2 linked regions of the Homo sapiens genome follow. The protein of the gene in region 1 interacts with the protein of each later gene in a pairwise test. Each region holds a gene or a part of one and is shown in the gene's direction. Other genes may lie near its edges. The genes, in order: MLC1 and ATXN10.

Region 1 (15,439 bases):
TGGTATCTTGAGTGTGACATCAGAAGTACATGCAATAAAAGAGACAAATTAGACTTCCACCAAAATTTAAAACATCTGTGCATCAAAGGATACCATGAAGAAAGTGAAAAGACAATTGATAAAATGAGAGAAAGTATTTGCAAATCATGTATGTGATGAGAGATTAATATCCAGAATATATAAAGAATTCCTACTACAAGAAAACAACCTAATTTCAAAACGGGCAAAGGATTTGAGTAGATATTTCTCCAAAGAAGATATATAGATGGCCAATAAGCACATGAAAAGATGCCCTCACAAATCATTAGGGAAATGCAAATCAAAACCACAGTGAGATACTACCTCACAACTACGAGGAATAGCTACTGTCAAAAGAAAAAAAAAGAAAAAGAAAATAGCAAGTGTTGGCAAGGATACAGAAAAAGTGGCAGCCTCATGCACTGTTGGTGGGAACATATAACGGTGCAGCTGCTGTGGAAAACATCTGGTTCCTCACAAAGTTAAACCTAGACTTACCATACAGCCCAGCAATTCTCTTCCTAGGCGTAGCCCCAAAAGAACTGAACAAGGACTCAGACAGACTTGTTCATGGCAGCACAATTCACAACAACCAAAAAGTAGAAACAACCCAAGTGTCCATCAACAGATGAATGGAGAAACAAAATGTGATTTATTCACACAATGGAATATTCAGCCATAAAAAAGGAATTAACTTTTGATACATGCTACATGGGCAAATCTTGAAAACAGAAGTCAAATAGCCAGACACATGATTCCGCTTATATGAGGTATTTAGAATGGGCAAATTCATAGAGACATAAAGTAGAACACTGAATAACTGTTTAATGGGTACAGAGTGTCTACTGGGATGCTGAAAAAGTGCTGAAGACAGATTGTGGTGATGGCTGCGCAACAATGTGAACGTGCTTAATGCCACTGAACCGTACATTTCAATATGGTTAAAATGGTATATTACGCATATTTTACCACAAGAAAAATATCTAAATAAAAAATAAATCCAGAAGTACATTCAGGTTTATACCAAATGGGGATCATTCCCATCAAGTGAGAACGGCTCACAACACAGAAACTGTATTTTCCACCATATTAATAGCAAAGGGACAGAAACTATGGGATCATTTGGAAGATACTGAAAAGTACTTGAAAAATCCATTACTAATTTATAAAAGCAAGATTGTGAGTAGAGATGAACCCTCTTCACCATAACAAAAAAGGTCCTGCATTCCTTACAAGATGGAACAAGTGAAGGGCAGCTGACCACCAAGAGGGCTGGGATTTGCTGGACACCCAGGGGCCAGTTTTTCCACATTGTCACATTTCTGAGATCAGAATGAGTCTCACAACCTACGTTTCCATTTTAAATTTTCATTATCAAATTAATGGTGTATCTTAAAATCAACGGGAATTTGGTATGAGAACCTGCTTTGGAAGGCCGCGTGTGAGTACACGACCACAGCTCAGAGAATGAGGTAAACATCATCTCTACAGGTTCTGGGTTCCAGATCCTCTTTCAAAGATTCTGAACCCAGAGTACTCCTTTAAATACACACAAAAACATGAGGACTATCGTATAATTTCAAGTTCAAAAGGAAATCTTTGGAGGAAAAAATATAATTAAATAATTGGGAGAGGAAAAGAGGGTAGTGTGAATGAGCCAGTTGTACATCTCTGATGATGGAAGTCCATAAATACTAACATTGGTGAATTAATAAAAGATACAAGCATATTGTTTAAGTGACTCAACTATCTACCAGATAAGGTAGAAACAGAAACCCAGAAGAGCATCAGGTCTGCAGCATGAAAGTGCAGGTGGGGAACGTGGAGGGAGGCTCTTCTACTTTGCATTCACAGTCTCTAAGCCAGAGCTGACAGAAATGTTCTCTATGTGTGCTGCCCAATTTGGTAGTCACTAGGCTTCAGTTAGCACTTGAAATGTGGCCAGGGAAACTGAGGAAACACTTTTATTTATTTATTTTTAAGAGACAGGGTCTCTATGTGCCCAGGCTGGTCTCGAACTCCCGCCTCAGCCTCCCGAGTGCTGGGACTCCAGGTTTATGCCACCGCGCCTGGCTGTAAGTTGCATTTAGTTTTAATAAATCGAAACTGCTGCACATGAGTGGTGGCTACCATATTGAATGATGGAATTCTAGACTTTGAATTATTTTATTGGGTATGCTTTTTTTTTAATTTGAGAAAGATGATACTAAGCATTAGATGGTACTAACTATAATAGTATAATAAAGTACATCTCAAGTATTTTTAAAAAGTAGTTAATAGCTCAATACGTTTGCCAGATTCCAAATTACATTTAAAAATCGCTGGGCATGGTGGCTCATGCCTGTAATCCCGGCACTTTGGGAGGCCGAGGTGGCGGATCACGAGGTCAGGAGATCGAGACCATCCTGGCTAACACAGTGAAACCCCATCTCTACTAAAAATACAAAAAATTAGCTGGGCGTGGTGGCAGGCGCCTGTAGTCCCAGCTACTCTGGAGGCTGAGGCAGGAGAATGGTGTGAACCCAGAAGATGGAGCTTGCAGTGAGCCAAGATCATGCCACTGCACTCCAGCCTGGGTGACAGAGCGAGACTCCGTCTCAAAAAAAAAAAAAAAAAATTGAAAGCTTTCCCATACAGGAAGAAAAAGATTAATTTGAAAATACGATGGAAAATGATGTTAATAGAACACATAAAAACTCCTGAAAATAAATTTAGTAAGAAATTTACAGGACCTAAAAGAAGAAAACTATTGAACTATAAAAAGAATACAAAGGAAGGCTTAAATAAATGGACAGACATATGGAAAAGACTCCATATGACCCAAATATCAATTATTCTAAATGAAATGCATAAACTCAGTGCCATCCAAAGCAAATCTGGGCAGAGGGGGAGAAACAAGATTCCAAACTCATCCAGAACATGTGAAGAGCCAGAAAAATACCATATGCTAATAAGAGCAAAGAAGGGAAACCTGCTCACCACCTATCACAGCAACCATGCCATGGGGCCCCCTTACAAGCATCAGGACCACATCACATGCAGGTGGGATTCTGATACATGATTAAGGAATTTTCCAAATCAGCAGGGAAAAAGTGAGCTACTCAGATGACTGGCTAGCCATTAGGAAAGCAATGTCTGGTTCCTTCTCTCAGTCTGTGCACCCAAATAAATTCCAGGCAGGTCAAATATTTAAATATCAACAAACAGGCCAGGCATGGTGGCTCATGCCTGTAATCCCAACACTTTGGGAGGCCGAGGTGGAAGGACCACTCGAGGCCAGGAGTTTCAGATCAGCCTACGCAACACAGTGAGACGCCATTTCTACAAAAAAATTTTAAAAATTAGTCAGGTATGATGGTGTACACCTGTGGTCCCAGTTACTCAGGAGGCTGAGGTGGAAGAATCGCTTGAGCTCAGGAGTTCCAGGCTGCAGTGAACTATAATCGCACTACTATACTCCAGCCTGGGCGACAGCGCAAAGCTCTGTCTCAAAAATTGAAAAAAAAATTCTAATTGTCAATAAACAATTTTCAGAGTAAAATTTGAATATTAGGAATAAGAAGTGGAATAAGCCTCCCTAAGGCTTCTTACAGCATCCAAAAGCTACATGGAAAAGAGGCACACTTAACTACAAAAAATGAAACTATAAAACACAGTCAAAGATGATCCTGGGGAAAATATTCCTAACACTTTCATATAATAATTTTCCTTAAAAAGCTCTGATTTCCCTAATATATAAGCTTTAACAAAAGAAAAAGCTGAACTCAACAAAAATGTGGACAAAGGACCCAAAAATAATTCATAGAAAAAACATGAGGCCGGGCGCGGTGGCTCACACCTGTAATCCTAGCACTTTGGGAGGCTGAGGTGGGCAGATCACGAGGTCAGGAGCTCCAGACCATCCTGGCTAACACGGTGAAACCCCGTCTCTACTAAAAATACAAAAAAATTAACTGGGTGTGGTGGTGGGTGCCTGTAGTCCCAGCTACTCAGGAGGCTGAGGCAGGAGAATGGCGTGAACCCAGGAGGCGGAGCTTGCAGTGAGCTGAGATTGCGTCACTGCACTCCAGCCTGGGCGACAGAGACTCCGTCTCAGAAAAAAACAAAAACAAAAACAAAAAGAAAAAGAAAAGTTACCATACTTAAGGCTTAAGTGCAAATTAAGTGCAGTCTCTCATTCTGCTCCTAAGAGTATAAATTTGTATATTATTGATGTTACTTTGGTGATAACCATTAAATTGTTGAAAAAGCAAGAAAATAATGGATATATAATTGCTATGTTCTCCACAGCATAAATTCATAGGCAAACTTTACTTTCTAAAGTATACATGTCTATGTTGTTTGAATGATTTACAAAGACTGCTGTTTGTTTATTTATTGAGACAGGGTCTTGCTCTGTCATCCAGGCTGGAGTGTGGTAGTGCAATCATAACTCATTGCAGCCTTGACCCTCTGGGCTCAAGCGATCCTCCCGCCTCAGCCTCCCATGTAGCTGGGACTACAGGTATGTGCCACGACACCAGGCTAACTTTTGTGGGTTTTTTTTTTGTAGACACGAGGTTTCACCATGCTGCCCAGGCTGGTCTCTTAACACCTGAGCTCAAGTGATCTGCCTGTCTCAGCCTTCCAAAGTGCTGGGATTACAGGCGTGAGCCACTGTACCCAGTCTATTTTTTAAAACATAAATCATAAAGAGCAAAAGCATCCCCTTGAAGGTACATTCCACTCTTTCTCCCTTGGCCGGGTCATGTCTGATAGATTAAACACAAGGAAAAACAACACAAAGTCCCGTGGCGAAGAAAAACTGTTCCCAAATGAACTCAAACCTTACCCTGATTGCTTTCAGTCCATTGGACACTTTATTTTCTTCCACAACTGCAATCACTTCCTGTCCAACATTCAGAAGCACTCTGCTAGTCACAGCATCACTGGAGAAGTAGATCATATCATCAATCATGCCATAATCGCTGCAGTACCTTGTCACGACACCCCGTACAGTTTTCAGCTTAGTGTCACCTGAGGTAGGTAAACAAAGAAGTTATCTTGGCCATAAAAGCAAGCGTACGCTACAGTGAACCCCACCAGAGAAAGGCAGAGTGCAAAAGCCTCCTTTTTTTGCAGTTCGGAGGCACTGACTCCGAACGGGCTGACTTGAGACAGAGAGAATCCCATCAGAGAGTGCTGTGTCTGGAACGTGGGGTTTGGAGGCAGACAGCCCAGTTTCCTCAGAAGGGCACAGGTAGTGGTTGTGGAGGTGACAGCCCTGACTCCACAACAGACTGCATGGGGTTGACTCCTAGCTCTTCTACTGCCATTGGTGTAACCCTGGACTAGGTCCTTAACTACTCTGGGCCTGTTGCCATCTGTAAGATGGAGACTAATCGTCACTACCCAAGAGAGCTGCTGAAGGGTTAAGTGGCAGAACACACGTGCATGTATGGACCTCTGCGTGGCTGACACGCGTTAAGTGCTATGTAAATGGCCACTTATATCAGCATCTGGGAGTCATTAGCATGCACGGTTTTATTAGTACTATCGATTATCTTTTTATTACCATCAGCAGCAGCCTCGGAAGACTGGAGAATCTCAACAAACACGGTGCTGGAAAAGGTTCGGGGCTGGGCAGACAAGTCTGGCCCAGGAGCAGCGCACGCCCTCAGCCGTCTGGCCACTGCTGCAGCCACGGTCCTGAGTCCTGAACGTGCCTTTACTGCAGCTTCCCAGCCACGGGAGGAACCTGGGGCGACGGTTACAGTACAGGCATAGGATCTGAGCGCTGCCAAGAGCTGGAGCTCCAGCTACCGCTGAGCGCGTGTTCTACCGAAGAGATCCACGGAGCAAGTGCTCCAGGTAACACAGCCGGCCCCCCGGGCATCGGCCCTCGTGGATCCAGAGGCCCTGAACACGCTGCCTGCAGCAGGAAGCTCCCCTCCTGAAGCCTGTTCCTGTCTTTTCTCACAGAAGGCAATTAGGGACCCACTACTGTGGATTCCATTCCCACATAAGGAAACATCGGGAGAAGCCATCAGAACCTCGGGAGAGGTCGGGCGTGGTGGCTCAAGCCTGTAATCCCAGCACTTTGGGAGGCCAAGGTGGGTGGGTCACCTGAGATCAGGAGTTCGAGACCAGCCTGACCAACATGGCGAACCCCCCCTCGACTAAAAATACAAAAATTAGCCGGGCGTGGTGGCGGGTGCCTATAATCCCCGCTGCTCGGGAGGCTGAGGCAGGAGAATCACTTGAACCCAGAAGGCGGAGGTTGCGGTGAGCCGAGATTGCGCCACTGCACTCCAGCCTGGGCAACAAGAGCGAAACTCCGTCTCACACACACACACACACAAACACCTCAGGAGAAAGGAACGGTGAGGGCATCCGGGCGCATCCCGGGCTTTAGAAAGATGGGCTTGAAAACCAGACAAGGAAATGGCACGCCTTGGCGCAGCGCGTTCTGAAAGGACAGGCCAAGTCTGCGGGGCCGCGTTTTTCGGGGCTTTCTAGACACACCACCGCCAATGACGCTGCGGACAGGGAGGAACGACATGGAGAGACGACTTGGCAGCTGCTCGGCGTAAACACACAAAGTGAGGGCGGGAAGAGGGGCTGGTGTCACCGGAGAGACCTCACAGAGGACGGGCGCCCAGAGCGGCGGGATGCTGTGGGGTCGGAAGCCTCCTGAGGCGAACGGGGATCCCCGCCAGCGGAGATGAGGAAAGGCCGGGCCCAGCGTTGCCTGCCGGCCCGCACTGCACTCAAAGACCTATGGGCGCGGCTCCCTCGTGGCCGACACGCGAGGGCCCGGGACCCGCCTCCCAGCCGCCTCCCGCGAGCCACCTTCCGCGAGCTCGGGCTCCAGCTGCCCGGCTTCCTCCCTAGGGGTGTCCGCCGTCCTCCAGAAGAAGGCCACCAGCTTGGCTGCGAGGCTCAGCATGGCCCTCGCCCGGCCTAGGCTGCCGTCACCGCCGCTGCCGCCGCCCGCACGCGCCCGCGCCGCTCCCGCCGCCCGCCACCAATGGGGTCGCCGCGCCTGGGCATGCGCCTTGGGGTCGTTGCGCGAGCCGGGACCCGTAGCGGTCAGAGGTCGGCGGTTGGCGCCTGGCAGCTCCTGACAAGGCGAGGTGCCTGGTGGGAGTGACGTCATGCCGAGCGCGCAAGGCGGTGTGACCGCCGGGTGGGCGGGGCTTCGAGCGGGCGGGCGGGGCCTCGCGTGGGTGGGCGGAGCTTCGAGCGGGTCCGCCTTCTTGCCGCCCACACATTAGGGAAAAGTGCGCTTTCACCACCCAGAGTGATGTTAGGAGTCGTTTTTTGTTGGTGTTTTTTATCAAGTTGAGGAAGTTCCCTCTATTCCTGTTTTTCCAAGAGTTCTTATGAGTGGGTGTGAAATTTTCTGCAACGCTTTTCTGCATGTATTCAAATGATCCTGTAGCTTTTTATTTCAGCCCATAGGGAATTACATTGTTTGGCTCTCCTTGGAAAACTCACTTGGTCACGATTCGTTATCCTTTTGGTGTATTGCCTGACTCAGCTTGGTAACGCTTTGTCCAAGGTTGGGGACGGTGCTGGTGAAGCAGATTGCTCTGTGGCCGACCTCCCGTTTTCTGTGTCTGTCTGGTTTGGGGTCGGTTTAAGCCGGGCCTGCAGTGACCTGGGAGTAGGATGGGGTAACTTATTCCCTAAAAATTGTGGTAGTATTCGCTGGGGAACCCATTTGGGCTTCGAGATTTCTTTGTGGGAAGGTTTTTAATGAGAAATTCACTTCTGCATCAGCTAGAGGGCTATTCAAGTTATCAAGGTAATATTGAATAAACTTTGGTAATTCTTTTAAGGAATTTGTCCATTTCATCCAATTATTAGATGTCAGATTATTGGCATAAAGTTGTTCAGCATATTTCCTTATTATCCTTTTAACGTCTGTATGGTCCATAATGATGAGCCATCTTTCATTCTTGACATAGGTAATTTATCTCATCCCTCTCATTTTCCTTGATCAGTCTATATTTATCAATTTTATTGAGTTTTTAAAAAAAATCATCCCTTGATTTCATTGATTTTTCTCTATTTTAAAAATATCTTTACACTTTGCGAGGCCAAGGTGAGCAGATCACTTGAGGTCAGGAGTTCGAGACCAGCCTGGTCAACCTGCCAAAATCCTGTCTCTACAAAAAAATACAAAAAAAATTAGCCAGGCATGGTGGCGCATGCCTGTAATCCCAACTACTTGGGAGGCTGAAGCAGAAGAATCACTTGAACCCAGGAGGTGGAGGTTGCAGTGAGCTGAGATCACACCACTACACTCCAGCCTGGGAGACAGAGCAAGACTCTGCCTCAAAACAAAAACAAAAACAAAATACGTATATATATCTTTACTATTCCAGTGGTTTCTGTTTTTTATTATTTCTTTTTTTTTTTTTTTGAGATGGAGTCCTGCTCCGTCGCCCAGGCTGGAATGCAGTGGCATGATCTTAGCTCACTGTAGCCTCCACCTCCCGGGTTCAAGTGATTCTCCTGCCTCAGCCTCCAGAGCAGCTGGGATTACAGGCGTGCGCCACCACGCTGGCTTTTTTTTTTTTTTTTTTTTTTTTTTTTTTTTGTATTTTTAGTAGCGACAAGGTTTTACCATGTTGGTCAGGCTGGTCTCGAACTTCTGACCCGCAGGTGATCCACCCGCCTTGGCCTCCCGAGTGCTGGGATTACAGGTGTGAGCCACTGCGCCCAGCCCCGACTTATTTTTGATTGACATAGCTTTATTTTCCTAGGTCAGATCTGTCAGTCTGATGACAGCCTGGACCTTGCCTGTCCATGGATGCAGAGTGTACTGATAGTTCTTGCTGTGGGAAGGGAGAGAGTGGCGCACTCCCTAGCATTTCAAATCCCCGCTAAGCCTGTGTCTTGGGCTGGGTGCTGGAACACATACAGGAGCCAGCAGGGTCCCAGGGACCTACTGGTTGGTGGGAGATTAGCTTGGAAACAAGAGCGAGCTGCATGAGGGCTGGTGGCTCATGGGCTCCCTGCCAGGGCAGCTCGCAGCGGGTGCTGTGCCTGCAGGGCTGCCCCTCAGCTCCCCAGCTCGGGCCACTCCCTGGGATTCTGGACTCAGTAGACCCGGCAGATGCCCACAGACATCTCGGCCTCATCATGTCCAGAATGGAACTCCAGATCCTCGCTCCACACCTGCTCCACCCTGGTCTTCTCATCTCTGTCCTCACTGCTCAGACAGAACTCAGCAACGTCGCCCTGACAGCAGATTGCGTCCGCTCTTCAAACCCTGTTCAGAGCCCAGTCCCTCCTCACCACTTGCCCACTGCCACCTCAATGCCAGGCAGCACCTGCTCCTCCCACCCCCCAGCCTGCTCTCCACCCAGTGAGTGACCGGATGCTGCTCTGCCCAGACCCCTCCAGCAGGTCTGTCTCAGAGTTGAAGCAGAGTCGTCTCCATACCCACAGGTGCTGGCACCTGGCTGTCCTACCTGTATCCCCCTTGCATGGTCCTCGCCTGCCTTCCCCAACCTGTGGCCTTTGCTTCAACTCTGCCAGCCTCCCCTCCCTGCCTCCTTCTCACTGAGGCCTGCCCTGGCCCCTGCAAACAGCAGCCCCTCATTTCTCTCCCCTGACTTCTTTTCCCTCATAGAGGAAATCATGTGTGTCACTGGATGCATTAGTCTGTTCTCACGCTGCTATAAGGACATACCCAAGACTGGGTAATTTTAGAGTCAAGTCCTTATAAAGGAAAGAGCTTTAATTGACTCACAGTTCCACAGGGCTGAGGAGGCCTCAGGAAACTTACAATCATGGTGGAAGGGGAAGCAAACATGTCCTTCTTCACAAGGTGGCAGGAAGGAGAAGTCTTGAGCAAAAGCGGGGAAAGCCCCTTATAAAAGACCATCAGATCTCATAAGACCTCACTCATTGTCAGGAGAACAGCAGCATGGGGGTAACCACCCCCATGATTCAATTACCTCCCACCGGGCCCCTTCCACGACATGTAGGAATTATGGGAATTACAATTCAAGATGAGATTTGAGTGGGGACACAGCCAAACCATATCACTGTATAACACACTAATTTGTTTATCCTGTGCACTCCTGTGCCCCCAATGAATGTAAACAGCCTATAGGAAGGACGTCACTTCTTTGTCCACCCCATAAATGTTTGTTGAATGTTGAATGATGATGGGACATCAGCAGGCAGAGGGATGAAGGGCATTTTAGGAGCAAGAATTTGTTGGAAGATTGTATGAAAGAACAGGGCCTGTTCTAGAAACTAGTGTTGCCAACAGAAACTTGGGAGCATTTCTCAAGTGATGACTTATGATCTGGGAAGCTGAGGGATTTGCTCTGCAACCTCTGGTTCAGGGCAGCTTGTTTGTATTTCTAAGTGGAGAGCAACTTTTGAAAGAAAAAAATGTTGAAATCCGATTAACATTTTTTTCCAAACAAAAAGAAACACAGGAGGATTCGATCCAGTTGGACCCACTCCCACTAATCCCGTTTATCGCTTTAAAAGATAGTGAAGTTTGGGAGGTTTCTCAATCCATTAAAATGAGTTCTTGACTTCACAGATTATAGTTTTTGAAAATTATTTCTCATCCTTGCTTGATTGAAATGAAGACAACAGAACATTGGCTGTGGTGGCTGGCACAAAATTAACTAACCCTAAAATACTAGTATAGCTTAAACTTTCGTTTATTGCTAAAAATTTATCACTGCTGTTTCCTGTGGGGGTGAGGTTGAGCAAAGTGTTTTGAGCTGCATTTATGCGTACTTGACACTTACGCATTTTGATCGAGGTGATTTAGTGGGCATTTTCACTGGGACAGGGATGCTTGTATGTGTAATCTTACTAAAAGCTAATAAAAACTTACTAAAAGCTAATAAAAGCTTACTAAAAGCTTCTTGCTTGATTGAAACGAAGACAACAGAACATCCCATGGTCTGGAACCTGATGACTTTGCTCAAGTTTTAATGTGGGTTCATGGTTTAAGGAGCTGGTTTTTCAGAAACTTTAGTTTGAGCCTTTTTACAATGTGCACAAAGAACCCGTTGCTGTAGTTGTCAGGGTGCCAGTGTCTCTGGGCGACACACATTACTGTGGTTTTTCTCTGCTTGGTGAGCAGAGATAAAGGGGGCAGCAGGACCGGGCCCACCAGCCATCCGGGCTGCCCACGCAAACCACAGGGCCGAATCCGGAGCCGCCCAAGGCCACACAGCTAAGCCGAGTGCGTGAATGCTTATGTGACCGTGTGAAGGAGGTTCCCACCGTGTGGCTGTGGGGGATGGAAAAAGGCTACTTGGAAAGATGTAGAAGACCTTCGAGTAAACAGTTACGTTTCAGAAACAGAGCCTGCTCAGAATGTGTACTTGGTGGGATTCTATTCTTAGGGACGCTTCTTTCTTCTGAGAGACCCGAGCTCTGTGGCGAGTGGCACAGGCAGGGCCCCTTCCTTTCCTAGTTGGGTTCTGACAGCTCCGAGGCAGTGGTTTACACAACCAACACGAAACATTTCTACGATCCACCCGATTCCTCCCCTCATTGATATTCAGGAAGCAGCTCTCCTTCCCCTGCCTTCAGCTCAAGTTTGCTGAGCTTTTGTTTCATTTGTGAATACTTCTTGCTGGAAGTCCCTCACCCAGAGACCAGTGCTCCCAACGGCAGAGCAGCGGGGGAGGTAAGTGCTCAGACATTAAGCCGTTGAGTAGAGGCATGTTTTGCAATCTCTCGTTTAGCTACCAATTGGAGCAGTTTAACGTGCTTGAGTCCCCGGCGTGATGTGTTCATGGACGAAGTTGCCGATGGATGTTGTCAGGTGTTGCACCTGGAGGGCCCAGATGGATCAATGAGGCATTTAAAGTGTAGAATCTCACCCTGAACCCAGACTATTCAGGTCCGTTTTTCTAGGAAAGTTATTTCTTTTTCACTTTTAGATTCAAGTGCTCATTTTCTTCTTCAAATTTAGAGCACTTCAGTATGAACAATATTTCTTTTGTTAAAAAATATTTCTTGGAAACAACTTATTGAAGTTTCCTCAGAGTGGCCAAAGCCGATGATAATTTTATTCCAGATAAAGAACTGGTGACACGTGGCTGTACATTCAGCACAGCTGTGGTGTCCCCAAGTGCCATGACCCAGGAGCCATTCAGAGAGGAGCTGGCCTATGACCGGATGCCCACGCTGGAGCGGGGCCGGCAAGACCCCGCCAGCTATGCCCCAGACGCGAAGCCGAGCGACCTGCAGCTGTCGAAGAGACTGCCCCCCTGCTTCAGCCACAAGACGTGGGTCTTCTCTGTGCTGATGGGGGTGAGTAGCTCCACACTAAGCCCTTGGAGGGCCACGAGCATCTGGTCCCTCTGGTGACGGACTGCAGCGCCCTGGAGCCCCAGGTGGGACAGAGAGAGCAACTCTCAGACTAACCCTGCTGCTGCAGAACTCTTGGATGCCGACGAGCTTGTTTTGCTTGTGTTTTCACAATTATTTTTATTAATTTATGGGTGTCTGTTGTGCCAGCCTTGAGCTGCTCCAGGTTGTGGCTTAGTCCCACCAGGGTAGGGACAGTCCCAGGGCCATGAATGGGCCCCAGGAGTCTCCATGACCCTCGGCTCTGGGGGCCCAGGGTCCTCTGAGGGGTCACCTGCAAAGGTGGGAGGAGGCGTCTCAGGCCTTCAGGTCGGCCCTCACAGAGAGAACCTCAGGGACCTCCTCCTCCTAGGGAGGGCCTCAGGGGCCGGCTGGGAGGGAGCTGGGGAACAAAGGAACAGGTCTGGGGTGGACGGGCAGCGCCAGATGTCCGAGGGATTTCCCTGGGGTCCTGGCCATTCCCTGCACAGTCGTGGGCACAGAGATGATTGGAGGAGCCACTTGGGCCTGAGTGTGTGCAGCTGCTCAGAGCCATGCTGCAGGACAGGCCTCTATGCAGGGACCCCCGGTTCCGTGTAGCTTGGGCTGAGAATGAGATCCAGGCTGTGATTTCTCCCCTCCCTGTGCCCTGGCCTCCGCCGGCAGCCCCTGCAGCACCCACAGTGGTCCTGCCCACCTCCCGTGGCCTGAGCATGCCCCACCAAGACAGGCGTCTGCCTCGGAGCTGGGGACAGAGGCGGCTCCCGGGTGGTGGTGGCCATCTCCGGGCTCTGCCCTCCTCCACCTGGTGCCCTGGACTTGGTCGCAGCCCCTCCCCCGCCCAGGCCAGATCCCCTCTGCCCCAGACCTCGCTTCCTCTGCCAGGACCCTGGGTCCCAGTGACCTTTGATACTGACTCCCCTCAGACTCACCCCGGGGGTGCTGTGCGTGAGAGAGAGCCCCCTCCCCACCGCACCCCTGCAGTGCTGTGCGTGAGAGAGAGCACCCTCCCTGCCTCCTGCTAGGGTCTTCCCTGCTCAGGAGCCCCTGGGCCTGGAGCCCCTGCCTGGAGGGATCTTCTTCCAGATCTGGAAATTAGGTTCTGCAGACGGAGGGGGATGGGCAGTTGTTTTCCAGTCTCGTGTCTGGACCTGGGTGTGGGATCTGGAAGACTGCACGCACAACATGTTGGGGCAGGAGTATTTTGTGGGGAGAGGTGCCATTCCTTGCTCTAAATATTGGCAGATCCCCTTTCTTCTCTCCTCCAGATAACAGCGTGGGGGGTCCATGCTCCGACATGGCTGGGGGAGGCTGGTCCATGTCCTGGGCTGCGGCGGGGCTGCGTCTGTCCTACAGGAGGAGTCCAGGATGGGCGGGTCCCAGGTGCGGGTGTGGTTGATGCTGGGGGACGTGGGTGAGTCACCAATACACAGACAGTGAAGCAGAAGTTGAAGGGTCAGGGTCCAGCCTGGGGACGGGGCGCGTTGTAACCTGGGATTCTGTCGCTGTCTTGCAGAGCTGCCTCCTGGTGACCTCGGGGTTTTCGCTGTACCTGGGGAACGTGTTCCCGGCTGAGATGGATTACTTGCGCTGTGCTGCAGGCTCTGTAAGCAGCTTCCTCCACGCCTCTGCCAGTGCCCAAGCTCGCCGGCACGTGCTCTGGTTTCTTTGTTCTGAGATGTGCAGGTTTCTGTCACCTGTACCTCATTCAAACCTCTTCATATGGGCCGGGCACAGTGGCTCATGGCTGTCATGCCAGCACTTTGAGGGGTGGAGGTGGGTGGATCACCTGAGGTCAGGTGTTTGAGACCAGTCTGACCAACATGGACAAACCCCATCTCTACTAAAAATACAAAAATTAGCTGGGCGCGGTGGTGGGTGCCTGTACTCCCAGCTACTCAGGAGGCTGAGGCAGGAGAATCGCTTGAACCTGGGAGGCGGAGGTTGCAGTGAGCCCAGATTGTGCCACTGCACTCCAGCCTGGGCAATGAGAGTGAAACTTCGTCTCAAAACAACAACAACAAGAAAAAAACAAAAAACTCTTCATATGACTTTAGTTTCACGTAGAGTTCATCACCTTTGAGAATTACTGATGAAGCAGGCCTGAACCTTGCTCTGCAGACGCCTGTGCAGGGAATTGCGTGTTGATTCTGAGCCTGCGGCTGCGTCCTGCCAGAGCTGGCAGCATCTGCCCTCAGGGGACTGGGACCTGTGCCCCACATCCTCCCAAAGCTTCATGTTGTGTTTTTAGAAACTTACACAGTGCCAAGGCCGGTGGAGGCACCCACTGATCCTCAGAGCAAGGGAGGACAGACAACCGCTGTCCCCTGGTCCTCTGTGAACCCCGGCCACTGCCTCCCCAGCGTCCCGGCAGCTAGAGCACCATGCTGGCTGACCCCTGGGCTCTGGCCCGCAAGCCATGGACCCCATGCCCCTCTGGCCCGCAAGCCGCGCACCCCATGCCCCTCTGGCCCGCAAGCCGCGGACCCCATGCCCCTCTGGCCCGCAAGCCGCGGACCCCACGCCCCTCCTGCTTCAGCTGGTCCCGAGCTCTCCCCTCCTCTCGCTTCCACATGCCTGCTGGGTCTCTGGCCCCTGCCCTTTCTCTAGGGACACTGTTGGTGACTGTCCCCAGCAGCGCCCCCGAAATGTCTTAAAAACAAAGTGGATGCCCCGCCCCGTGCTGTCCTGGGTCTCTGCTCCCTTAGAACAAAGCCCTTTGGGGCAGGTGACCCGTCCCACTCTGCTGCCCTCTCTGGAAGCTTCTCCGTGGCCTTTATCCTCACCATGGGAGCCGCCCTTGTCCCAGTGGAGCTGTGAGCTGTGCCCCTTCAGCCTCAGCGGCTGCCGGATATGGGCAAGTGCCCACCCCCGCCCAGCCTTGGCCCCACTCGGCCCTGCCCCCGGCCTTTCTTCTCTACCCTGGGCCCTCGTGGCACCTGAGTGGGTGCTGAGCTGAGCCTGGCTGTCCTGGCCCTAGCTCTGCCCCTCGCTCAGGCCCCGACGGGGCTTCTTCTGCCTCCTCACCCAGCACTGCTGTGCTCAGCCCCTCAGGGCCTGCACCCCCGACTCAGGGCCCGGGGTCCCATGGCTG
Region 2 (16,062 bases), 4.4 Mb from region 1:
ACCTGGCCTTTGTTTTCTGTTTGTCTTCTCTGTATTCCCCCTTTCAGTTCCTCCTTTTCTTTTTTATTTTCTCACTTGAATGCTTTTCAGAATTACATTTTGATTTTCCCATTAGCCTCTTAGCTACAATTCCTTACATTTTTTAATGGCTACCCTAAGGAATGTAATATACAATGAACTTACAGGTCAGTATCCCCCTCTGTTCTTTGTTATTGTTGTTACATGTAATACATCTACATACATTATACACCTCACATGAATATGCTTAATTTTTGCTATGAACCATTATATGGTTTATAAAACAATTGAGAGGAAAAATGCAAATGGGAAAAATTATTTGTATTTACCCAGCTATTTACCATGTCTAATACTTGTCAGCTTTTCTGAGGATTTGAGTTTCCATCTGATATAATTTCCCTCAGCATGAAGAAGTTCCTTTAGCATTTCTCGTGGTACAGTTCTGTTGGTGAGGCCATCTCTTAGTTTTATTTTATCTGAACATGTCTTTAATATTGTTTTTATTCTAGAATAATATTTTTTCTGGATGTAGAATTCCTGATTGATAGTTTTTTTTTTTCCTTCAGGAGGTTACAAATGTTCCACTATCTTCTGGACTCCATGGTTTCTGATAAGAAGCAGTCATGAATCAATAATTGTTTTTCTGTATATGTCATTTTTATGTTGATGCTATCAAGATGTTTGTTTGCTCTCTTTCTTTGACTTTCACTGGTGTGATGTGTCTTAGCATAGGCTTCTTTATGTTGATTTTGTTTGATGTTAGTTTAGCATCTTAAATTTGCAAGATTCCACCTTTCACCAAATTTGGAAAATTTTGGCTATTATTTCTTCACATACTTTTTTTTGGGGGGTCCTGTTTTCTCTTTCCTGTCCTTCTAGCCTTGCAATTACACTAATATTTGAAAATCTGATATCCTCTAACAGGTCCCTGATATTCTTTCTCTTTGTTGTTTAAAAAATATATATTTTTTCAGCCAGGTGCTCATAATTGAACTCCTGGCCTCAAGTGATCTGCCCGCCTTGGCCTCCCAAAGTGTTGGGATTACAGGCGTGAGCCATCATGTCCAGCCCTTTTTAATCATTTCTATTTCTCTGCTGAGATTGATCATTTTCTCTCTTGAGGTTTTTATTCACTGAAGTCATGTTTTGTTTTACCTCATTTAATTTAGTTATAATCATTGCTTTAAAATCTGTCAGTTCTCACATCTAGTTCATCTCATGGACAGATTTGATTTTCTTTTCTCTTGAGAATGTTCTCTAATTTCATATTTGTATTTCAGGTAACTTTTGGATTGTATTTTGATACTATTAATAGTAAGCTGTGGGGATTCTGGATTCTGTTATTTTCCTCTGTGGAGTGTTGTTTCCTTTGTTTTCATAGACAATTTTCTTATGTGGGCTTGGGCTGAAAACTCTATTTCTTCAGGGGCAGTTCCAGTTTTGCGTCAGATCTTTTGTATTTAGTTGAGCTGCTTTGGGTCTACACCACATGATAAGGTTTATTAAGTGGGCAGTCAGCTATACGGATATAATTAATTTGGGGATCCCCTCTATCTTGGTCCATTTCCTGCTGCTTATAACAGAATATCTGAAACTGGGTAACTTATAAAGAAAAGAAATTTATTTCTTACAGTTATGGAGGCTGAAAAGTCCAAAATTGAGGGGCTGCATTTGGCGAGAGGCTTCTTGCTGAAGGGGACTCTCTCCAGAGTCCCAAGGCAGTGCAGGGCATCACATAGTGAGGGGGCTGAGGGTACTAGCTCAGGTCTCTCTTCCTCTTCTTATAGAGCCACCAGACCCACTCCCAAGATAACCAATTAATCCATTATTCTATGAATAGATTAATCCATTCATGAGGACAGCTCTCATGAACCAGTCACTCCTTAAAGGCCCTACCTGTCAATACTGCCACATTGGGGATTAAAATCTCAACATGAGTTTTGGACAGGAGAAACATTCAAAGCATAGCACCCTCTCTGGCTCTTTCCCTTTTGGGATTTTTCCCATTCTCTTCAGTGTTCAATTTTCATACATTTACTTTTATGTTTCCCCAGGCCAGAAAGAATGCAGAGTTTTGCACATGTGCCCCCAACCATTGCTGTGCACATCCACGTGCTACAATTAGTCCCAGGCTAAAAGCTACAGAGATGTGAACCTACTTGTATAGCTCCCCATCTCCCTTCCTCCAAGTGAGGAGGTACTCCTCATCAGAGTCTGCGTCTGTTCACTCTCAAGCCCTTCAGGTGGTTGTTTTTTGTAGTATATCTAGGTTTTATGATTATTTACTATGGGGTACATAAGTGTGGGGGTCACCAAGTAGGGTCTTCGTCCATCTTACCCAGAAGTGGAAGTTTGTCATGAATTGGTCCGCAGAGCACTTTGAATAGTCCTGGCCTAAACCACTGTCTCAATGATGGCCCCATTCAGAATGGCATTTGCAAGTTTCTCTTCCATAGTTTTCTACCAGATGTTTATAAGTGAGGTTCAATACCAGATAATGTCAAAACTAATAGAGGAATTCCCAGTTCAGGCAGAGGGAGCACAAAGTGCCAATAATATCCAAATATTGTTTGGTACTGATTGACTTGACAAAGCTCATTTCACAAAAAACCGTTCTGGCTTTTACAGACTGTTCTCAATGGATTTCCCTTCTTTCCTGTCAATGGATTTTCTTTCTTTGCTGGCCTTTGACTTTCTGTGATCTTGGCTGCTGGGAAGTATAAGGCAGAGGAAGTCCTTAGGCAGGAGATAAACCTGGGCCTGTTCCTACAGAGGTGGTCTTTTGAGAGTCCTGGGGTCACTAGTTGGGACAGCAGAAGGCAAAAGTCCCAGGTAGTGTTATGATGGTTTGGAGCAGAGCCATGTCATGAATATTTTAATTTTTTATTTTAAACCCTATGAGACATTGTTGCTTTATGATTGTTTTGTACTTTGGATGTTCATTTAGATGAAGCGGATGGTAAATACCATTCTCAGTCTTCTTTATTCCTTTCTGTGTCTCTCATCTTCCATCTGGGATTGTTTTTGTCTCTAATTCACACTCTTTTGTATTTCCTTTACCATGGATCTGTTGGCAGTTATTTTTATTTTTCAGCACATCCAAGATAGCATTCCACTATTTTGGTTTCCAGTGTTTCTGTGGAGGATACAGCTTACTGAATCCTCACTCCTTTAAAAATAAACTGTCTTTTTATTCCCCTGTGGCTTCTTATCAGATTTTGTCTTTGTCTTTTTGCATAACTTCACTAGATGTGAATATATGGTGTGTTTATATTTAGATGTCTTTTCGTGTATTCTGCTTTCTATTCATTGAGCTTCTTGAATCTGTGGTTTGGAATCTTTCATCAGTTTTGGCAGATTCTCAGCTATTCTCCTAGGTATTGCCTCTGTTACAATTACATGTGTTAGACTTTCTCAACTTATTTTCTGCATCTCTTAGCTCTTCTGTATTTTTTGTATTTTAATTTCTTCATTCTGGATAGTTTCTTTCTAAATCTTCCAGTTCATTTATTCTCTCTTTAGGTCTCTCTAACCTGTTTTAATCCCATCAATTGAGTTGTTACTGTGTTATTTCTAATTTCAGTTCCAGAATTTCTATTTATTTATTATATAAATACACTATTTCACTTTTTATAGTTCAATACCTTGCTTGGACTTTTGAACTATTTCTTTTTTCTTTTTTGAGATGGAGTCTCACTCTGTTGCCCAGGCTAGAGTGCAGTGGCGTGGTCTCGGCTCACTGCAACCTCTGCCTCCTGGGTTCAAGTAATTCTCCTGCCTCAGCCTCCCAAGTAGCTGGGATTACAGGTGCATGCCACCGCGCCCGGCTAATTTTTTGTATTTTTAGTAGGGACGGGGTTTCACCATGTTGGCCAGGCTGGTCTCAAATTCCTGACCTCATGATCTGCCCACCTCAGCCTCCCAAAGTGCTGGGATTACAGGCGTGAGCCACTGCGCCTGGCCGAATTATTTCTTTGAACATAGTAAACCTGTTGTGTCATTGCCATGTTCCATTCCAATAGCTTAAGTTTTTGTGGATCAGTTTCTGTTGTATGTTGCTTCTGCTGGTTCTTATAATTTCTGGTTTCCCTGTAGAGTGAGTTATTTTTGTGTTGTTCACTCTATTTGAGAAGTATTTGTAGAAATAATTTGATGCTTAGGATGGCACATTCTTCCAAAGATGGTTTTCATTTGCTTCTGTCATGTGTCTAAATGTGCCACCATTCTGGGTCTGTCTTAATCCCAATTCAGGTGTTTTGGTTCCTTGGATCAACCAGGTGACAAAGAGGTTTTTGAAATATTTCATTTGGGTTTAAAATAAAAGTTTTTCTCATTCAGAGGATAGCTTTAAATAACTTGGCGTGACATTACCAGAAGTGAAGCTTTTTCTGTTTTATGAAGCTTCTTGTATAAGGCAGGGATTACATCTTTTCTCCATGTTTGGTAGAACCATATATAAAGTCAGCTGGTTTGAGGCTATATTTTGGTGCTTCATTTTCTGGAATGTATTTCCACCTTTGTTTGTCTAGTGCTCATACAATTATTTAAGATTCAGCTTACATGGTTTCTCTAGTTGTATTTCTTCATCTCTCCAGCTTCTTAGCTCTTTATACATCTTTTTTCTGACATGATTTATTATGCTATCTTATCAGTATATATTTCTGTTTTCCTTTAATAGACTCAGAGGTTATTCATGACTAAGGTATTATATTATTCATCTTCATAAGACTAGGTTCTAATATAGTCCATGATAGATGCTCAAATCTTCTGGTTAAATTGAAATATGAAAAATAAAATGTAAAATGGATTGGTAACAATCATAAGGAATAGCTTAATAACTTTACAAATTACATAAAAATAATTGATCCCCACAAGGCAACTATTACTAACATCAGAATCATCACCTCAAATACCGGTAGTCTATTGTCAGTCACTTATTACCAATTATATCTTGACCGTACTCACGATTTCCTACGTGTTTCCTACTGTTTCTCATTTGCCCAACTACCTAACAGCTTTTGATCTCCTTGCCCACTTCGTTCTTTCTACTTTCTCACTTTTACACCACACAGTTCGCTGTTAACACGTATTGAACTAAGCTAAATATATGACAGACTCTGAATTGACTATCATCAAATCTTCCCAACAATTTAATTAAATAGGTGCTATTACTATTCCATTTTACAAATGAAAAAAAAAAGGCTTAAAGAGATGGTTACTTGTCCAAGTTCAGGTGCTAAGAGATAAAAGAGGGATTCACATCACCCAGGTCTGTCTGACTCCAGAGCTCATGTTCTTTACCAGAAGTTGGCAAACCTTTTCTAAAAAGAACCATATAGTTAATATTTTAGGCTTTGGAGGCCATACAGTCTCTGTAGCAACAAGTCAATTCTGCCACTTTAGTGCCAAAATAGCCACAGAGAATATGTAAATGAATGACTATGACAGTTTCTAACACAATTTTATTTACGAAAATAGGTGGCGGGAAGAGTTTGGCTCATAGGTGATAGTGTGCCAATCCCTGCTCTGAACAAGTACACTACTCTGTTATTTTTTTCTCCTTTTTCTCAATCTCCAGAGTTTTCCATTCAACAGATATTGATAGCATTGCTTCTAAGCACAGGGCTGGGATGAAGATGAGAAAATCCCTGCCTTGAGGGACCTCAGATGTGGAAGAGGAGGGCATAAACACACATCTATAGCACAGGCTGACTATGGAAAGTCAGTGCCAAAAGAGAGGCACAGGCTGACCAGAGATTCTTCTGAAGAACACATGAGATCTTGTGGAGTTGGTGATATATGACAAAAGCTTTCTAGCAAGAGCATCGTAGGCAGAGATGCTAAGAAGGATGTTTCCAACAGAAAAGCCAGCAGAAGCACACATTTTTCTATCCACTTGTCACTTATCTTCTACTCAGTCTCTCTTTTTTTTTTTTTTTTTTTGAGACAGAGTCTCGCTCTGTTGTCCAGGCTGGAGTGCAGTGGTGTGATCTCAGCTCACTGCAAGCTCCGCCTCCCAGGTACACACCGTTCTCCTGCCTCAGCCTCCCGAGTAGCTGGGACTACAGGTGCCCACCACCATGCCTGGCTAATTTTTTGTATTTTTAGTAAAGACGGGTTTCACCTTGTTAGCCAGGATGGTCTCGATCTCCTGACCTCATGATCCACCCGCCCTGGCCTCCGAAAGTGCTGGGATTACAGGTGTGAGCCACCGCACCCGGCCTCATCTTCTATTCTCTTTACCAGTATTCACTTACTTCCTCTTTCTTTTCCTTGCCAAAATCATATGCACTTTGGTCCAAATCTGTTTTTGCCTTGCACCTCATCTACTTTCTTCTCTGATTTTCTTTTTTGCCTTCCTTCCTTTTCTTTTCTTTGTATTTACTTCCTTCTTGATTACTGAGTCATTGCTGATTCAATTCTTCTGCAGTGGGCTCAAGGTACAAATTTATATCACAAATTTCATTTGAAGTCGAATTCACGTACATCAACATGGTGGCATGTTCATCTGGTTTGTCTAAGTCAAACAGCTATATAACATTAACAATGTCATTTAGCCCTAGTGAAATATTAACTTGGTTCTGTCAATTCAGTCAAGGTTGAAATCCTCTAGTCGATTTTGGGCAGTCAATAACATCCACTGTTTGACCAGTTTAATTTCCTTTCGTTTCTCTTATGCGTATTTCTACTTTTTGTCTGTCCTGTTAATCTCTCTGTTTTAATCTTTTCCCTTATAATTTTTCTTCTTTTTCCATCAGCCTCCTTTTCTGTACTTTTTGGATTATTGCACTTCTTCTAGAGGCATGCTATCTCCTTTCTCCTTTCTGCAGATATATATATATATATATATATATATGTATATTTATTTATTTATTTATTTAGAGATGGAGTCTTGCTCTGTCACCCAGGCTGGAGTGTAATGGCGTGCTCTCAGCTCACTGCAACCTCTGCCTCCCAGGCTCAAGTGATTCTCCTGCCTCAGCGTCCTGAGTAGCTGGGATTACAGGTGCCTGCCACCATGCCTGGCTAATTTTTTTCTGTATTTTTAGTAGAGATGGGGGTTTCACCATGTTGGCCAGGCTGGTCTCAAACTGCTGACCTCAGGCGATCTGCCTGCCTCCGCCTCCCAAAGTGCTGGGATTACAACCGTAAGCAGGCATGAGCCACCGCGTCCGGCCTCTGCTGATATAGTTAAAAAGATTCTTTGTTCATTAATTCAACTTTTATTGAGCAATTACCACATAGTAGGTCTTTTTCTAGGTGCTGGGCTGGAGATACAAAAATAACCAAAAGAGACAAAAATCTCTACCCTTGTAGAGCTTACATTCTAGTAGTAAGTGAAATAGATAAGCAACAATAAACAAAATAGAAAAGTAAGTTATATATCAAGTATTAAGTGCTATGCGGAAAATTCCTGGGGATCAGGAATTTGGGTAGCCTGTTACAATTTTAAATAGATTGATCAGGAAGGTTGTTAAAAGATCATTTGAACAGGTAGTTGAAGGAAATAAGGAAGCAAGTCATGGAGATGTTTGTGAGGAGTTGTTCTATACAAAAACAAAAACAAAAACACCAGCATATACAAACTCCTAAGGCAGGAGAGTTCTTTTCCTGGTGGAGTTATGGGATTTAAAAAAAAAAAAGGAAAAACAAAACTTTATCTGAGGAATATGATCTCCTTTAAATGATCGGGCCTAGAGAAGCATTGGAATGAAACACCAATCATGTCTCTCCTCCTTGAGCTGAATACTTACCTCTTTTCAAAAGGAATTATTACTATTTTTTAAAGACAGGGTCTCTCTCTATTACCCAGGCTGGACTGCAGTGGTGTGGTAATAGCTCACTGAGGCCTTCAACTCCTAGGCTCAATGAATCCTCCCATTTCAGCCTCTGGAGTAGCTGGGACTATTGCCATGTACCACCATGCCTAATTTTTTAAAAATTTTTTCGTAGAGATGGGGGGTCTCACACTATGTTGTGCAGGCTGGTCTCAGACTCCTGGGCTCAAGCAATCCTCCTGCCTCAGCCACCCAAAGCACTGAGACTACAGGCATGAGCCACCATGCCTGGCCTAATTACCTCTTGAAGCCACATTCTATTTGGCCTCTAGACGAACTGATGTCAACTAGCTACACAATGGCATACAATCTATAGTTCAACATTGTACAGCCAATCATTAACCAACATTATTTCTTAAACCAATGAGAATTCATGACAAACAACCTTTTAAATCACCCTCTCTCCTGATTCGTCCTTTTTTCTTTAAAAAGTTGAGCTTCTCTTTCGTTCTCCAGAGCACTCCCCAAGGCAACTTGGATGTGTGTCCTGGACTGCAATGCTCACGTTGGCCCAAATAAACTCTTTATATTGATTTTACCTCAGCTTATTCCTTTTAAATAGACAGAGGACAATAAGGAGGTCAGTATGGCTGAAGCACAATGGAAGAGGAAGAGGCTAGTAGATGTGATTAGAGCCCACAGGGGCTGGAGGTGATGGCGAAGGAGGAGGCAGGTCATTTAGGGGCTTTTCTATTGGAAGAACTTGGCTTTTACTCTGAGTGAAATGGAAATCCCTTAGAGGGTTTTGGGCAGAGTTAAATGTTGAAATATTTTTTAAACGATCTAAAACGTAAGGAAGCAAGAGCAGAGGCCAAAAGACCAATCAGGAATATATTACAATATTCCAGGCAAGAAGTATGAATATTATAGGGAATGTTTTTCTGGGAATGTTACATTTGAGAATAAGAAAACTAAAGGCCAGGTTTTTTTGTTTGTTTGTTTGAGACAGAGTCTCCCTCTGTTGCCCAGGCTGGAATGCAGTGGTATGATCTCAGCTCAGTGCAACGTGTGCCTTCCAGGTTCAAGCAATTCCCTTGTCTCAGCCTCCCAAATGGCTGGGACTACAGGCACCCGCCACCATGCCTGGCTAATTTTTAGTAGAAAGGGGGTTTTGCCATGTTGGCCAGACTGATCTTGAACTCCTGACCTCAAGTGATCTGCCCGCCTCGGCCTCCCAAAGTGCTGGGATTACAGGCATGAGCCACCGTGTCTGGCCTAAAGATCAGGATTTTGGTGCATAACAAGTACATTTTACTATCCTGTGCTCCTCAAGGGAAAATTAAGAGATTTTTGCCCTGTTAGCTTAAGGAGTGTTAAACATTTTGCATTGTCTTGAGCACTGCTACTAATAAGTGATCTAATACCTGGCACATAGTACACCGCAATATTCGTGGAATGAATAAATACATACTCAATTAAATGGGTAAACTGAATGACAATATCAAGTAACTTGCTTGTGCAGCAGCATTCATTTCCCTCCCTCCTTTTTTTTTTTTTTTTTTTTTTTTTTTGATACAGGGTATCATTCTGCCACCCAGGCTGGAGTGCAGTGGTGTGATCACAGCTCACTGCAGCCTCGACCTCCTGGGCTCAAGTAATCCTCCTGCCTTGGCCACCCAAAGTGCTGGGATTACAGGCATGAGCCACCATGCCCCACCAGGATTCACTTTTTCTGCATACTCTGGTGGTGTTTATTGTTATCTTTACATTTTATTTAGCAAAGAATGTTAAAAGCGCCATGTTATAAGCACACTCCTACCCTCCAAGCAGAATGTAAAGGGTATGTATTTATATATTTTAAGTGGTCCCACAGCAATTTGTACAGTTATAGCAGTTCACAACTATACTCAGTTATGTTTGCTTCTCTCCTTCTCAATAGTCTGTGAGGTTCCTTCAGGTTTGGAACTGTCTTTTATTAATCTTTACATCTCCAGCACCTAGCGCAGGGCTTAGCAACAATTTTTGTTGAAAGTATATACACTGTAATAAAGGGCAGTGGAAAGAAAATATGTGAGTTATCAACACCAGCTAGAGAAGCCTTGTCTGATTCCTGTGAAATATATTCATTTCCCTTAGGAAAAAAAACAATTCTAACCCTATTGCTGTGTAACTTAGCTTCTTGACTTCGAACGGTATTTTAAGGCTTTGAGGAGCTGGAGCAATGTATACTCACTAGAGGCAAAGTGCCTGGTAAGTGGTCTGGTATTGATCAGCAATGATCAGTAAGTACTGGGAAGTGCGTTTTCAGGGCCTGAGACTTGCAAGCTAGTGACAGACCGCTCCAGCTTCCAGTGGACCCGGGCGGGGGCACTGATCAACCCACTTGAGCAGTGGGATCAAGGTCTTCAGCCTTAGCAGTGGGAGCCTCTGCCCGGCCCCCTTCGTTCCCGAGACCCTCAGTCAGCGTCTCCTCCCAAGAGGGTCCCCTCCACCCAGAATGTCCTCCCCTGGGGGAGACCACTCTGTCTGCGGGCCCCCTCCCACAGGAGGGCCCCTCTTCCTCAAGGTGAACCTCTGTCCCCGATACCCGCTCCCAAGACCGAGACCTTGTTACGGCCCCACCCTCCACAGGCCCCTTACCCCCCGGATCCCCTCCCCTGGGGGAGACCCCTCTGTCCGCGGGCACCCTCCTATAGGACGCGCCCCTCTTTCTCAGGGTGAACCTCTGGTTCCCGATACCCGCTCCCAAGACCGAGACCCTGTTACGGCCACATCAACACAGGTCCCCCTCCCCCCGGCGTCCCCTCCCCTCGGAGGAGCCCCGTCTGCGACGCTTCCCAGTCAATCACCCCCAGCATCCCTCCCCGCTCTCACCCAGAACTTCCGCCGCGCCCCCTCCCCTCAGGCGGGACTTCCGCCGGCGCCCCCTCCCCCGCGGCGCCGTCTCCTCCTCCCGCCTGAGGCGAGTCTGGGCTCAGCCTAGAGCTCTCCGGCGGCGGCGCAGCTTCAGGGCAGCGCGGGCTGCAGCGGCGGCGGCGGTTAGGGCTGTGTAGGGCGAGGCCTCCCCCTTCCTCCTCGCCATCCTACTCCTCCCTCCTCGTCATCCTCCCCCTTCGTCCTCCTCGCCTTCCTCCTCCTCGTCAGGCTCGACCCAGCTGTGAGCGGCAAGATGGCGGCGCCCAGGCCGCCGCCTGCCAGGCTGTCGGGCGTCATGGTGCCGGCGCCCATCCAAGACCTGGAGGCCCTGCGCGCGCTCACGGCGCTCTTCAAAGAGCAGCGGAACCGGTAACGGGTCCGGCCGGGGGGCTGCCCCGGGCAGGGGAGGGCGGCCGGGACTCCCGCGGCGGCCCCGGCCTGGACCCAGGCGCCGCCCCCGCCTCGCTGGAGACGCGGAGGGCGAGGCCTGCGCGGGCTGCCTGAGCGCCACCCAGGCCTCCCGACTCCCAGGCACCGCCTCGTGCTCGTGGGTCCCCGCGGGGCCTGGGGCGGGCGCCCCGCTCCCCCACCGCAGCCAGTCCGGGTGCGAAGCCGCGATCCCGGGAGCCCTTGCCGCGGCGTGCCGGTGATGTTGACCCAACACACGGTTAGGCCTCCCCTGTCATGTGCGAGGGCTGCGCCAGGCCCTGGCTGCAAGACCCACGCGGCCCCCAGAGTCATAAAGCGTGTGTTTTAGCGGGAGAGACCCGTGTTACGGACGCGGGAATTGGGCAGTTGCGGGGATGGCAGTCTCTAGGCATGGAGTGGGACTGGCACTCCTTTCTCCTCGGCGTTAGAGCCCAGGCTGCACCATCTGCCCTGGGGGCAGCGCTCTGTGCAGTGTGGAAGAGCACGGGCCTGGAGAGACCAGTCCAGTCCTGATGCCACTGAGGGGCAAGATAGCCAGGCAAAAAGAGAAGGTGCCCAGGAGTCGACAGTTGTGGATTTGGTTCCTGGCCTTGCAAGCTGCGTGTTACTGTGCAGTTTCTCCAGGCCTTAGAATTCTTGTCTAAAAATGGGACTATAATACACAGCTTAGTTGCTGGATTGTACAGAGGAATAAATGAAATAAAGTACGTGAAAATATAAAATGTGCGAAGCCCTCAGTCAATGCTTGTTTGATCTTGTTCTGTCCTCTGGGCCTCAGTTTTCTTGTCTATTTAATGGGAGTAAAGTTGAACAGTACCTCCCTGGTGATAGTGTCATAAGGAGTAAATGAGATATAATGCATATTAAATCCTTAGGACATACCTGTACATAGCACTAAATGTAGCTGATATTATCACTTAACACATTGATTGGTAGTTACCCATGTATCAGCTATTGTGCTAGGTGATGGGGTAGGAAAATGGAAAGTCCTTGCTCTCTCCTGTACTAGTATGTACAAGATAACACAGCTGTGGGGGTATGTATGTACAAAGCAGAGGGAACATTGAAGAAAGAAATACTGAGACTTGGGTCAGCCTAGGTGATCACTAGAGGACTTCCTCTCTTTAAACTAGACACCTGGTCTGAGCACTTCCTTTACCTCACATCACTTTGGGAAATGTGGAGCTGCTGAAGGAATGCTATTAATAAAAGTCCCTGGTACTGCTCTATGGGCCTTTGGGGGAGATGTATTTATTGATTTAATGCTTAGGCATTTCTGTATCATGATGGACCCTCCTTTTAGTTAATAACCCAGTCATCAACCATTTATTGAGCACCTACTATGAAACAGATTTTTTTGTTGGGGTCTGAGGGTACAGAGAGGAATGATGTGAGTGATCCCTTTTATCAGGCATATTTGGGAAATAGCTAAATAAACACATTGTAATGGAAATCTATACAAGAGGTGGTGGCACAGGGGAGCATGTGGATATGTTGGAAGATTGGCGAGCCAGGAGAGGCTTTTTAAGGTTATTTCAGGTGCTCGGTTATAGATGAGAGGACTAGAGGGAACAGTGTCTGCAAAGGGGCCATATGTTAATTTTGCAAAACCGATGAGACAATTAAGTAACATAGATAAGGTTTCTCGTACAGAAGAGACATTTAGTCAGACATCAGTTCCCTTTTTATAACTTGGAGAAAATCCAAGCCCCTGAGCCAGTTTAGAAGGCCCTTCTTGACTCTATCTCTTGTGAGGGAAGAAGTTACAGAGAACCATTGATGGTTTTTGTCAAGGGAGTGGCGCGATAAGATCTGCCTGTTAGATCTTCCTGGCCGCCTCCGCCTCCATTGTGGGGAATAAATGAGAGGACGAAGCTAGAGACAGGGGGGACCTTTAAGGAGTGGTAGCGGAAGCCCATGTGAAAGAGAAAAGTGCCTAAATTAGGACATTGTGGGGATGAGTAGAATAAATACTGAGAGATACAAGGTTGAATGGACAGGACTCGGACCAGTTGGATTGTGGGGGGGAGAATGAGGAAATGAGGATGCTTCCCAGATTTCATCTGAGTTCTGGGACAGTGTCCTTGTTCCAGGCAGAGATTGGAGACCAGGAAAGGTGAACTGATGTGCAGGTCCTGGCATGGAAAGACACAGTTGTGTGGTGGTGCAGAGAACTCATGATCAGGGTTTATAAGGACAGGCTTCTGGTCCTGGTTCTGTCACTGCTTCTCTTTGTCTTTGGACAAATTATAAGGGTCTTGTGGGGCTGGGCCCAGACTCCTGCTCCTCTGAGAGGATCCCTCCAGTTCTGATGCTCAGGGAGCCAGTGTTTGTCCTTGGGGGTCTCCTCTTCAGAGAGGACATAGGGCTGTTGTCTAGTATGAACAGGAACACAGATGGATCCAGGGGGAGGATGGGCCAAGGTGTTAGAAGGTGGACGAGACAAAAAGCCAGGCAAAATGAGTCCTCAGTGTAGCAAATAGAAAACAGCAGACAAAAAGCAAAAACAGTGAGGAAAGTAATTAAGAGATTCTTCTCTTTTGGTGGAATACATTATTTCTCTAGGATTCCATTTTATATTTGAAGAATCATAGACATAATGTAGTTGGTGGTCCTTCTGAGCTCTTCCATGCTACAAAACAAACTTCTGTCAGTGGTAGCTTGAGTAATAGAAGTGTCATGCAGTGGGAAGAGCAGTGGCTTTGGAACCATGGAGACCTGGATGTGAATCCTGGTTTAGTTTGTGAGGCTTCTTGTTTCTTTCCTTGAAAACGGGATGATGGTAGCCACTTTGACAGATTATTTTGAGGATCTGTAATATTATATGTGTAGCATAGTGGTTTATGCATAGTAAATGCCATTTATTTAGGACCTGTTATTAAAATATAACAAGGTTGTAAGTGACCAAGAATCCATTTGTGTTGAATCTCCTGTCTTATCAGAAACAAAAATTGCAGCTATTTCAGGAAGACAGTTCTAATTTTGGGGTTTCCGGAGAAGGGGATCTCAGGATCTCATTACAATTTTAGCAGCCCCCAAGTGAAAAGAAATTCTTACATCCCATTGTGGGAATTTTAAATATGTCCACAAATTCTTTGATACTCTGACCTTCTCAAGAGGAGGAGGTTAATTCTTTTCTCCTTGAGTGTGGGCTGAACTTAGTGACTTGCTCCTGAAGAGTAGAATATGGTAGAAGTGACAGTGTGCGACTTCTCAGACTAGGTCATAAAAAGCATCGTAGTTTCCTCTTTGCTAGCTCTTTCTTGAATCACCCACTCTGACAAAGCCAGCTGCCATGTCATGAGGACACTCAAGCATCCATATGCAGAGAGCTGTGTGGTGAGGAGCTGAGGCCTCCTTTGAACAGCCATGTGATGAACTACCTTGGAAGCAGGTCCTCTGAGCTCCAGTCACATCCTCAGCCACGTGTGCAACCTCATGAGACACCCTAAGCCTCTCAGATCTGTGTGAGATCATAAATGTTATTGTTTTAAAATGCTAAATTTTGGGCTAATTTGCTATGTAGCAATACATCATTAATACACCAGTCTTAATTCTCCATGCTGTGTATTAAATGCATTCTGTAACCCACTTCTTAAACAGTGTCTTGGTCACTAAAATAATTTAAACATATTGCTTATGGTCATATAATATCAGTATTGAGATATTCCTCAGCTGTTTCTTCTCTGTGTAAGATAATTCTTTTTTCTCACATTTGTTTTATACTTTTTGTTTAATGTAGATATCACCGTATTTCACATTTGTTTAACAAGTGATTTATCTTGCTGTGAGTCTTTGCAAGTCATGTTAAATTCTTTCTGAACAAGTAAGACAAACATTTAAAATTCTATTTTAGTTGCTCCTTTAATTATTTTTCTTTTTTTTTTCCGAGACAGGGCCTCACTTTGTCATCCAGGTTGGAGTGCATTTTTTCTAGAGAAGGGGGTCTCACTATGTTGCCCAGGCTGGTCTCGAACTCCTGGCCTCAAGTGATCCTCCTGCCTCGGCCTCCCAAAGTGTTGGGATTACAGGCATGAGCCACCGTACCTGGCTAGTTGCCTTTATGATGCATCCATGAGGCATCTCCAGACCCCACAAAGTGTAGAGCCAGGTGAGATGGGTTGTCATACTCCATCTGTGCTGTTCATTAAGTAGCCACTAGCTACATGTAGCTACTTAATTAATTGAAAATAAGTAAAATTAATGTTTCATTTCCTTAGTTGCATTAGCCATATTTTTTAATTTGTTTTTTTTTTTTTGAGACAGTTTCACTCTTGTTGCCCAGGTTGGAGTGCAGTGGTGTGATCTTGGCTCACTGCAACCTTCGCCTCCCGGGTTCAAGCGATTCACCTGCCTCAGCTTCCCGAGTAGTTGGAATTACAGGCATACGCCACCACACCTGGCTAATTTTGTATTTTTAATAGAGACGGGGTTTCTCCACGTTGGTCAGGTTGGTCTTGAACTCCCGACCTCAGGTGATCCGCCTGCCTTGGCCTCCCAAAGTGCTGGGATTACAGGCATGAGCCACCGTGCCCTGCCCTTTATTACTATTTTTTTAGAGACAGGGTCTCACTCTGTTGCCCAAGCTGGAGTGCAGTGGCACGATCATAGTTCACTGCATCCTCGACTTCCTGGGCTCAAGCAATCCTCCTGCCTCCTTCCCCAGTAGCTGGGACTACAGGTGTACACCACCATGCCCAGATAATTTTTTTGTTTATTTTTTGTAGAGATGGGGTCTCGCCATGTTGCCCAGGCTGGCATTAGCCATATTTTAAGTGCTCATTGGCCACATGTGATGTGACAGCACAGATATAGAATATTTCCATCATCACAGAAAGTTCTGGAAATAGTGCTCTTCTGTAGTAAGTTTTCTATAGGGGAGATTGTATTTTGACTCTTGAGTATTCTTGAAATAATGGAA

What was found.
Region 2: the proteins of MLC1 (region 1) and ATXN10 interact in binary tests that used the Homo sapiens proteins (3 or more experiments, as listed by UniProt).

Annotation. Positions count from the first base shown.
Region 1 is NC_000022.11:50,081,596-50,097,034, reverse strand, and holds the start of MLC1 (membrane protein MLC1), read left to right. Parts: upstream 1-11,608; 5' UTR 11,609-11,680; exon of another isoform or gene 11,681-12,073; 5' UTR 12,074-12,132; coding exon 12,133-12,309; intron 12,310-13,861; coding exon 13,862-13,951; intron 13,952-15,439. Other genes in the region: RNA helicase Mov10l1, read right to left, coding at 4,850-5,034, 6,850-6,946. UniProt on the Homo sapiens protein: Transmembrane protein mainly expressed in brain astrocytes that may play a role in transport across the blood-brain and brain-cerebrospinal fluid barriers. Regulates the response of astrocytes to hypo-osmosis by promoting calcium influx.
Region 2 is NC_000022.11:45,661,099-45,677,160, forward strand, and holds the start of ATXN10 (ataxin-10), read left to right. Parts: upstream 1-10,735; 5' UTR 10,736-10,965; coding exon 10,966-11,081; intron 11,082-16,062. UniProt on the Homo sapiens protein: May play a role in the regulation of cytokinesis. May play a role in signaling by stimulating protein glycosylation. Induces neuritogenesis by activating the Ras-MAP kinase pathway and is necessary for the survival of cerebellar neurons.